Homo sapiens: one gene and its partners. The gene in region 3 interacts genetically with the main gene of each other region. Each region holds a gene or a part of one and is shown on either strand. Other genes may lie near its edges.

The links.
Region 1: changes in NF1 (region 3) and NDUFC1 together harm fitness more than expected from each alone (negative genetic interaction), as found in Homo sapiens cells (one large-scale study listed by BioGRID).
Region 2: changes in NF1 (region 3) and HADHB together harm fitness more than expected from each alone (negative genetic interaction), as found in Homo sapiens cells (one large-scale study listed by BioGRID).

Annotation. Positions count from the first base shown.
Region 1 is NC_000004.12:139,295,904-139,299,558, reverse strand, and holds part of NDUFC1 (NADH dehydrogenase [ubiquinone] 1 subunit C1, mitochondrial precursor), read left to right. Parts: intron 1-2,115; 5' UTR 2,116-2,174; intron 2,175-3,191; exon of another isoform or gene 3,192-3,227; intron 3,228-3,598; 5' UTR 3,599-3,655. UniProt on the Homo sapiens protein: Accessory subunit of the mitochondrial membrane respiratory chain NADH dehydrogenase (Complex I), that is believed not to be involved in catalysis. Complex I functions in the transfer of electrons from NADH to the respiratory chain.
Region 2 is NC_000002.12:26,272,327-26,275,981, reverse strand, and holds part of HADHB (trifunctional enzyme subunit beta, mitochondrial isoform 1 precursor), read right to left. Parts: intron 2,332-3,655; coding exon 2,232-2,331; intron 1-2,231. UniProt on the Homo sapiens protein: Mitochondrial trifunctional enzyme catalyzes the last three of the four reactions of the mitochondrial beta-oxidation pathway.
Region 3 is NC_000017.11:31,335,851-31,339,505, forward strand, and holds part of NF1 (neurofibromin), read left to right. Parts: intron 1-482; coding exon 483-623; intron 624-784; coding exon 785-1,064; intron 1,065-1,517; coding exon 1,518-1,732; intron 1,733-1,968; coding exon 1,969-2,030; intron 2,031-2,174; coding exon 2,175-2,289; intron 2,290-2,853; coding exon 2,854-2,955; intron 2,956-3,655. UniProt on the Homo sapiens protein: Stimulates the GTPase activity of Ras. NF1 shows greater affinity for Ras GAP, but lower specific activity. May be a regulator of Ras activity.

The DNA of each region.
Region 1 (3,655 bases), on a different chromosome or scaffold from region 3:
AAGTAACAGCCATGCTTTCAGAAAGTTAACATATCCAAGGCTATATGCTGCCGCTGCTGCTGCTGATGATAGTTAATTCATCTTACCCCATGTGCTTGCATGTCACTATGTTCCAAATGCTAACTCTAAAAAATATTAACCAAAAAGAAAGAAATAAAATCATTTACCTTGCAAACTTTAATTCTACAAAAGGGATATGTTGAGTGAAATTTCTCCATATATGTAAGATGTTCTCTATTGAGACTGTTACATCTTATTAAGTACTTGGATCTTATTTAAAAAAAAAAAAAAGGCTGGGCTTGGTGGCTCACACCTGTAATCCCAGCACTTTGGGAGGCTGAGGCGGGCGGATCACAAGGTCAGGAGTTCAAGACCAGCCTGACCAACATGGTGAAACCCCGTCTCTACTAAAAATACAAAAATTAGCCGGGTGTGGTGGTGCGTGCCTGTAACCCCAGCTATCCAGGAGGCTGAGGCAAGACAATCGCTTGAACCTGGGAGGTGGAGGTTGCAGTGAGCCAAGATCGCACCACTGCACTCCAGCCTGGACAACAGAGTGAGACTACATCTCAAAAAAAAAAACATAGGCCAGGCATAATGCCTCATACCTATAATCCCGACACTGGGAGGCTGAGGCAGGAAGATCGCTTGAGCCCAGAAGTTTGAGACCAACCTGGGCAACATAGTGAGACCCTGTCTCTACAAAAAAATTTTAAAATTTGCCAGGTGTGGTGCTGTGAGCCTGTAGTCCCAGCTACTTTGTGGGCTTGGGTGGGAAGATTCCTTCGGCCCCAGAGGTCGAGACTGCAGTGAGCTGTGATGACACCTCTGCTCTCCGGCCTGGGCAACAGAGCTGAGACCTTGTTCCAAAAAAAAAAAAAGAATATAAAAGAAATTCATGTATTTGTCACCTAGATTTAACAAATGTTAACAATTTGCTATTGCTTCTGGGTTTTTTTTGTGTGTGTGTATAGACAGGATTTCTCAATGTTGCCCAGGCTACTCTTGAACTCCTGGGCTTAAGCAATCCACCCACCGCAGCCTCCCAAAGTGCTGGGATTATAGATGTGAGCCCCAACGCCCGGCCTGCTGCTGAATCTTTTTTTTTTTTTTTTTTTTTGAGACAGAGTTTCGCTCTTGTCGCCCAGGCTAGAGTGCAATGGTGCGATCTCAGCTCACCGCAACTCTGCCTCCTGGGTTCAAGCGATTTTCCTGCCTCAGCCTCCCGAGTAGCTGGAATTACAGGCATGCACCACCATGCCCGGCTAATTTTGTATTTTTAGTAGAGACAGGGTTTCTCCATGTTGGTCAGGCTGGTCTTGAACTCCCGACCTCAGGTGATCCGCCCGCCTCGGCCTCCCAAAGTGCTGGGATTACAGGCGTGAGCCAGGGCGCCCAGCTGCTGAGTCTTAAAAAATAAAAACTTATAGATACATCTTGGTGTGTGGGGAGGTGGGAGGTTGTTGGTTTTTTTCTTTTGTTTTGTTTTTGTGACAGGGTCTCACTGTGTCACCGAGGCTGGAGTACAGTGGCAGAGTCTTGGCTTACTGTAGCCTCACCTCCCAGGTCCAAGCGATCTTCCAACCTCAGCCTCCCGAGTAGCTGGAACCACAGACATGCACCACCACACCCAGCTAATTTTTTAAAAAATCATTTTGTAGAGATAGTTATCTACCTATGTTGCACAGGCCAGTCTTGACCTCCTGGACTCAGGCAATCCATTTACCTTGTTCTCACAAAGTGCTAGGATTAGAGGCCTGAGCCACTGTGACTGGCCCAAGTCCTAAGTTTGATTCATAGTATTCTCATGCATGCTGTATCAATAAAAATAGGGATTTTTTGTTTTGTTTTTTGCATTTTATACTGTTTTTCAATTCTTGCTCTTTTTTTACCTTCCTTGGGAGATGTGATTTTTTCCCAGTGGAAAAATCTTGGACTGAAACTTTGCTTTTCTAGCTGCTAACTCAAATCCTCTCTCTTTTCACCTGGATCATAAATAAGATTTTAGTGTTCAAATTCTGAAGATGCTTACATGAATGTTATGAAGCAACTTCTAACAAAATATTATAGATATTAGTTCCTAGCTGGAATTACTTAATCAGGATTCTTTTCTAGATGCAGTTTCACATACAGCTGGGTACTCCAAGTGTACAGTTCCCATCAGCTCTAATATGGTGAGAAAAATGTGCTTATACTTCATCACTTTCCCAAAATACACACTAGTAAAAGGATACAAGGGCCAAAGCTCTGAAAAAGAACAAAGCAGTCTTTCTCAATAGCAGTACTGAAATTAGTAATTTGCTTACTGGTTCTGAATACTCTGACTAAAGATAGCATCTGTTTCAACTTGTTGGATACTAGCAAAAGCTTCATCAGGACAAGCTTCCAACGGATGGTGTAGAAAGGATATACAACTGACAGGTTGCTGAGTGGACAATAAGTGGCGAACCAACAACTGGCTCAGCACATTCATTGGGTAGTTTACTTACTTGAGCATGAGTCCAGGAGGCTCAAACTAGGTTACAAACTAAAGTGACTCACAATTTAGCAATCCATTTAGCCACCATTTGCATGTTAAAATGAGCCAGAAAACACAGTGCAATTAATTGACTTTTTGGTCAATAATTTTTGGTTAAAAAAGATCTTAAAATAACATTGCTAAAGAGAATATAGGAGATTTGCTAACATTTATTTTGGTTTTAAAATTAATGACATAAAGTTTAAAGGATTAGTTTTAAAGGGTCAAAATGTATTGTCTGTTACCTATAAATATTTTTACTGGTCTTTAGACATCAGATTGAACTGAATTGAATGTACAAAGATCTGGCTCAACTGTGCAAGATAAAACCTATTCCTCAGAACGATGTCTTTAATAGGCAAAACCAAATAAATTGTTTACTACTACCAGACACTTGTTTAAGCTTCTCAGCAACCCTATAGGTTTTATGTTACAGATGTAAAACTTAGGTATAGAGAGGTTAAGTAATTTGCCTAGAAATCATAGAGCTAAAAAGTGGTGAGCAGAATGGCTTTGAACGCTGATTCTACAGCTTATGGTCTAGGGTGGTCCAAGTCTGTTAGGTGGGCTAATGAGGATCACTAGATCTGGAGTCAGAAGACCTCAAACTGTATCCCACCTCTGCCATCTGTGTGATCTTAAGCCTACCTAAGGCACTAATTCTACTTCACAGGTTTGTGAGGCTTCAGTATGATCGTGAGTGTAAGTGGTAAGTGTTAAGAGATCTTTTCAACTGTAAAATATAATATGTCACCTTGGATGAGTAGCTGTCTTCTTTAAGCTTCATCTGTAAATTGAGGCTTATAACCACGGCATGATATGTGCTCGTTTTGAAGATGAAATAAGACAATGAATGTAAACCATATGATACATTAATGCACCGTGCCTGGACCACAGAATTCAATCCAAATGCTAGTTATTATTCAGCACGACACTTTTCTTTCTTCTGGCTCATGTAGGAAAATTTTAATAAACCTCTTGATGAATAGCCGTAGAGATGGGGTGAAAAACCCCCAGAGGACAGAGAATAGGTAAACTCTTTTTTCTTTTAATTATTTTCTTCCTAATTCCACTGTATAGACAGAAGGCTGAGGCCGGGGTGCTAGAGAACCTTGCCGTGCTGGAATTCACGTTGAC
Region 2 (3,655 bases), on a different chromosome or scaffold from region 3:
TACTGGATCCCATTATAGGGAATTCATTTTTAGTATTCTTTCCCTGAAACTATTAATTATCCTCAGAACACACTCTCCTATAATTTAGTAAAATAAATGTTTCCAAAGTCTCAATTAGAAATTCAATGTCTCTTAACTGATTTTTACCTTTATACTTACTTACTTTTATGCTATTTACCATAATCTATAGAAACAGAAATGTGTTAGTGATGTAACTGCAACATGACCTCATTCTGGTCTTTCCAGGTAGGCCTGATACTAAATGCCCAACCTGCTTTGTTGAGAACTTCTGCCAGGCACCTGTGCATCAGCCTCTCAACGTAAACCAATCCGAAAGGAAGAGAGACGCAAGTATCTCAGGGGGGCAGGAGGGAAGAGCTCTGCAAAGGGCAAGTGTAAAAGGGGCACTTAGGTTGCAATGGCTCGATTCTCACAAGGGCCTTTCTAATTTGTGTTGCCCTTGGCCCTAGATGACTCTCAGGACGGAAGGAGCTTTAAATAGAGGTGGCTATTGGTGACCCTTGTCCACACACTTCTATTGAAATTTGAATAGCTCTCAGGGCACTAAGGGAAAAGGAGGAAGATGTCTTTAAGCTGGAGAACAGGGAAATATGCTGAACCTTTCAACAAAGTCAGGTTCATGAACACCAGGAGCCTTTTAGGACTGTATATTAACATTATTAATACAGGCAATAGGGCCTAAGAAACTCTTTGGCTGAAAATTATGTTAGCTTTTAGGTTGCAAGGACTGTATATTAACATTATTAATACAGGCAATAGGGCCTAAGAAATTCTTTGGCTGGAAATTATGTTAGCTTTTAGGTTGCAATACAGCTTTAGAGTGACATTCTCATAATGTATCCCCCTCAACCCAATCTCTCCCTGCAGATGCTGCAAAAATTACCTGGAGCACAACATAACTGGTATTAGTACAGGGCAGGCAGAGGGAATCTACCTCCTGTCAATCAATAGCTGAGATCTGCAAATGGATGTAAAATTTCCAGGAAAAATTTCAGAGGAAAACATTATGGCTTTAGTTTTAGGAAAAAAAGAACTGAATTACAGAGAAAATGGAAACATTTATTTTTATTTATTTATTTTTTTATTTTTTGAGGAGGAGGAGAAGGAAGAAAGGATGGGATAAAAAGCTGAGCAAGAGGAGAAAACAGCAAAAAAATTTACTATTTACATCTTAAGTGCTCTTATAAAAGTAATAGGTTATTTTCAGAATATAAAAGTTGAAAATGTATTATGAGCAGCTTGATGTACTCATGAAATTATCATATTTGAAACATTCAGAAATGTCAAGGTTCAAGGAAAAACAAAAAATTTCAGAAGGGAAATAAAATCTCTTCCTATTGTTAATTCCTTCCTGCCCCTCAACAGCACACAGTTAGTTTCGTAGGCTTCAGTCATGCCAGGCCTTTGGCAGTTCTAACATTTCTGCCAGGTACAGAGGTGGAACAGAACAAATACTTTCAGTCCTGCTCATGTGCCCTTGTCTCTCAGTTGACAGTGATACTGAACCCAACAATATGGCAAGCACAGACCAGAACTAGGGAAAATACTGAGTACAATGAAATGTGCTTTTGGTGCCAACTTCATCCAATCGATTTTAAATGAAAACACAGCCCAGAAGACGTGTTTGGATTTGCCTGTAGGACACATCCTAGAAGTTCCAAGGCCTGTCATTATCTTGGTTGCCCAATCGACACTACATGGAGCTATGCCAACTAGGGCAAAAGTAAACTCCTGTGAAATAGTTTTTAAAAAGCCAAGCTGCCTTACGTGCCATCTAGTTGATGGGAACAAATGAGTAAGCAAGGCTACTTCCAGCTAACAAAAGTCAAGTTATGAAATTAGTTCTCTGCAACATGTTGAAATTTTAAATTAATTGGAAGCCATGATATCTAACATTACTAAAAATACTATCAGCCACACTTTGCTGATCTCTATTTTCCTAACACAAGAGACAATGTCCTAAACCAGCTCAAATAATTTATTTGATTTACAGTAAAGTATGGATATACACTAATATAGTGTATGTCATTTGATTTATATTAGAATTCTTTTACATATTAAATAACACATTACCCAAGCTGTAAAATCACATTTTAGGTCAAATGTAACTCAATAGATTTTAAAGGCTTTTGTAAAGTAACTTCTATTAATTGAAATTCAAAGTGATTCTCCTATCACTCTTTAAACAACATAAAGTTTGTTTTACTCACCTCTCTAGCCACATTGCTTGTTTTCACTTCCTGAATAACTGTACCAAAGATGATATAATCAACTACTTCCTTAGGGACACTGGTCCGATGCAACAAACCCCTGGAAGTAGAAATCCAAAGCAAAGAAACATTTCACACATCAAGGCAGTGCCAGAGATCATCACACAAAACACTGCGCTCCTTGAAAAAGGTTAGCCTTGAATTTAAAAGGACAGAGACTGTATCTTTTCTTTAATTTGACAAGCATTTGGCACCTTCTCAAAGAAGAAATGAATGAAAGAGTGATTTTAAAAGTCAACATTTGATGCTGAATTGGTAATGAGAAGTTAGAGAATAAAAAATAATTTGGAATAGAATAAAATAGATAAGAAACCTATAAATTAATGTTAATTAATGTTAGTAGAAACCAAAGTTTGCAGTGAAAAAGAGAGACAAATATTCAATCAAAGAGATAAAGCAAAGTCTCCCTTAAGACTATTAAAAAAAATTAAAAAAAAAGAAGTCCTGGGTATGTTAAATTTTAGTTTGAAATATCAGTATCAACAAATGATTGAAATAATACATATATTCTAGTTGTGCCCATGAATAGAAACTAGACACAATAACACTCCAGTAGGAATGAGCACTCCCTGAACCCAGACTTGGTTTCCTTTTTTTTTTTTTGAGATAAGAATCTTGCCCTTTCACCCAGGCTGGATGGAGTGTACTGGCACAATCTCGGCTCACTGCAACCTCCACCTCCTGGGTTTAAGTGGTTCTCTCACCTCAGCCTCCTGAGTAGCTGGGGCTACAAGCGCCTGCCATGATGCCTGGCTTATTTTTGTATTTTTAGTAGAAACAGGGTTCACCATGTTAGCCAGGCTGGTCTCGGACTCCTGACTGCAAGTGATCCACCAGCCTTGGCCTCCCAAAGTGCTGGGATTATAGGTGTAAGCCACTATACCCGGCCCCAGATTTGGTTTCTAAATGCCATTCCCCATTAAAAGGACAAAAGGTTTTTTAAGAAATGACTGATACCAGGTCCAGAAGAAAGTACAAAGTGAATTTCCATCTTTTTTGTGCCAAAAGTAAGGAAGCACTCAAAGACAAATGGGACCATATCAGCCGGGCACAGTGGTTTAAGCCTGTAATCCTAGCACTTTGGGAGGCCGAGGCAGGCGGATCACTTGAGGACAGGAGTTCGAGACCAGCCTGGCTAACACAGCAAAACCCCGTCTCTACTAAAAATACAAAAAAAATTAGCCAAGACTGGTGGCATGTGCCTGTAATTCCAGCTACTCGGAAGGCTGAGGCAGGAGAATTGCTTGAACCTGGGAGGCGGAGGCTGCAGTGAGCCGAGATCGTGCCACTGCACTCCAATTTGCGCAACAAGAGCGAAACTCTGTGTCAAAAAAAAAAAAAAAAGACAAATGGGACCATATCAA
Region 3 (3,655 bases):
GTATTTTTTTTTTTTTTTTTTTTTAGAGATAGGGTTTTGCCATGTTGCCCAGGCTGGTCTTGAACTCCTGGCCTCAAGCAATCCGCCCGCCTCAGCCTCCCCAAGTGCTGGGATTACAAGCGTGAGCCACTGCACCCAGCTCTGTATTTTCAAATTACTATTTTATATTGATGCTACATTACTGTCTTAGAAAAGCATAGAGATACTTTGCAAGTGACTGAAGATAGTATTGATAGAGATTTAAAATTTTTGAATACCAATCTCTTAATCTCTGAAGGAGTCAAATGAATATACTCATCCTTTACTGGATATTTTATAATAAATTGTATTTACTGACAGGCCTGTAAATAAAATCTAGTATTTTTGAGGCCTCAGGTAAAATAGAATTTTCATATTGATTAGGCTGTTCCAATGAATATTTTTTAATTAAAAATTAAATTGGTAGAGTGATTAAAAACATGTTATTTTCCTTCTTCAACTAGATTACAGATCTGCTTGATGTTGTACTAGACAGTTTCATCAAAACCAGTGCAACAGGTGGCTTGGGATCAATAAAAGCTGAGGTGATGGCAGATACTGCTGTAGCTTTGGCTTCTGGAAATGTGAAATTGGTTTCAAGCAAGGTAATCACTTTTCTTTTGCCTTCTGTACTATAGCATATCTGTTTTATCATCAGGAGGTTTTTTGTTTTGTAATTACTTTTAAATTAAACTGAACTTTTTTGTGCTAAAACTTTGAGTCCCATGTTTTTTTTTTTAAAAAAAAAAATCCTGCTTCTTTACAGGTTATTGGAAGGATGTGCAAAATAATTGACAAGACATGCTTATCTCCAACTCCTACTTTAGAACAACATCTTATGTGGGATGATATTGCTATTTTAGCACGCTACATGCTGATGCTGTCCTTCAACAATTCCCTTGATGTGGCAGCTCATCTTCCCTACCTCTTCCACGTTGTTACTTTCTTAGTAGCCACAGGTCCGCTCTCCCTTAGAGCTTCCACACATGGACTGGTCATTAATATCATTCACTCTCTGTGTACTTGTTCACAGCTTCATTTTAGTGGTAAGTTCTAGGAAAGGAATTTGTGTTTACCAGTTCCTTTCTCCATTTTACTTCACCTGATCAATATAGATTATCTTATTTATGTTTGTGCTCTAACACCAAGTTGCTAATTTAAGCCTCCAGTAATGACATGAAATATTACCAAAAAGAAAATAAATTACTTCCATTCCATATCAAGCTATAGTAAAGATTTTCTATGCATACTTGTCATGTAGAGTTATCCCATAAGCGGAATACTCAGTGCCAGTTGACCATGTTCAGTTACCAGCACTAATTTGTAGATAAATGAAGCAAGGAGCATTAATACAATGTATCTAGAGGTTTGATTTAGGGAACATGATTATGTAATTTTTATATGGTATTCAAATTTTCTAAATTCAAAATGAAACATGGAACTTTAGAAATTAAAAAGTAATATTTTCTGTCTTTACTTGTTCCTTTATTCTCTTACAGAAGAGACCAAGCAAGTTTTGAGACTCAGTCTGACAGAGTTCTCATTACCCAAATTTTACTTGCTGTTTGGCATTAGCAAAGTCAAGTCAGCTGCTGTCATTGCCTTCCGTTCCAGTTACCGGGACAGGTCATTCTCTCCTGGCTCCTATGAGAGAGAGACTTTTGCTTTGACATCCTTGGAAACAGTCACAGAAGCTTTGTTGGAGATCATGGAGGTATAGAAGCCAAAATGATAAGAAACTAAGTTAAAATCTTTTTTTAAAAATATGTTAATACTATATAGAAGAAATATTGGTTTATTGTGCTATTTTGTACTTAATGCTTAAATAAAAACACTTGCATGGACTGTGTTATTGGTAACAGGTCACTTAATGACATCATAATAAACATTATTTAAACAGTTCTAAAAACATTTATGTACAATATGTATTCAGAGTATCCCCTTTTTTAGGCATGCATGAGAGATATTCCAACGTGCAAGTGGCTGGACCAGTGGACAGAACTAGCTCAAAGGTATGTCCTAAATTAAATATAAGTTGTAAAAATATGCATATTGTTGAAAATACAGCTATTACTGTATGATCAATGTTATAATTTATTATTTAGTATATATAAACACAAAGGTTTTTATAAGTTCTGTGGATCTTTTAATTGCAGATTTGCATTCCAATATAATCCATCCCTGCAACCAAGAGCTCTTGTTGTCTTTGGGTGTATTAGCAAACGAGTGTCTCATGGGCAGATAAAGCAGATAATCCGTATTCTTAGCAAGGTACCTGTTCCGCCCTCACTTCTCCCAAATATTTATGGTTCTCAAGTTGTAAAGCATATCTTTCATTTTTCTAAAAGACGTTTAAATTTGAGGTCAATGAAATATCTTATATGTTACTTATTAAGCCTTTAAAATGTATTTTGATTATTTATTGTAATTCTTTGAAGAAGTCTTCTCTAAAGAAGCTGTCTTTATATGTAAACTCTGATTACTTCATTAAGGAAGATGTCTTTAAAATAAAATATGTTGCCTCTTTTGCTAAGCAGGTACACTTAGTATTTTACCAGTTTTCAAAGCATTTAATTATATGGTAAGACTATAGCCTTGCATAAAATTATTTAATTTGTAATTACTATAATAATGTCTGACTCTTATAATGTAGAAATGTCAAAAAATAAGAAAACAAATGTACATTAAGCTAGCTACCAAGATCACCATAGCATGAGAAATCATTCTAGCATTTATTAAATAAGTAAATGTTCCTGAATTCATTCCGAGATTCAGTTTAGGAGTTAATGTTTTATTTCAATGAAAGTAAAATAAAAAATTCTGTTTTCCTAAAAGGCACTTGAGAGTTGCTTAAAAGGACCTGACACTTACAACAGTCAAGTTCTGATAGAAGCTACAGTAATAGCACTAACCAAATTACAGCCACTTCTTAATAAGGTAATTACTGTATAGAAAATGAGTGCATTCATTTTGGGTATCAGTGTTGAATGTTACTTTCTTTCAAAGAGTTTAGAAAATAAGATGAATTGAGAATAAGTTATAAAGAAAAAACTATAGTTAAAGTAGAACCTCTTAAAGTTTAGTTGTTTGAAGTAGTCATATTAGAAGAAGAGTAAGTATGGATAGTATGTTCTCAAGCGCTTGTAAGTTTTTGGTCTCATCAGTGCTAAAGGAAAGATAGGTATATATTCTTAATTATTTTATCTTATAACTATTAATTATCTGCTATTGCCAAGTACTGTTTTAGGCGCTAGAGATAGAGTACTAACAAAGCCCATAAAACTCACTGCCTTCATGGAGCTTACTTTCTGGGGTGGGTGTGGAGGTTGGGGAGTGAATGGATAATGAAGTAAACAAAATACGTAGTATGTTAGTGATTATTACTATGGAGAAATTAAAGCTGGGAGAAGTATACTTGATCGTCATAAGAGTTTGGGTGCCAAATGAAGATTATATTTAAAAGGAGTAAAATGAAGTGGCCACTGTTTTAGGATGGTCTGACCTTATCCCATTTTTATATTTAAGATATCTGGAAATCATGTTTTTGTATTAATAAAATGAAAAAGATTCGATAATGGCATGGTATTACCATCCAGTTCTAAAGTGGTTTAATTCTGTGATTTGAGTACAAAGGTAT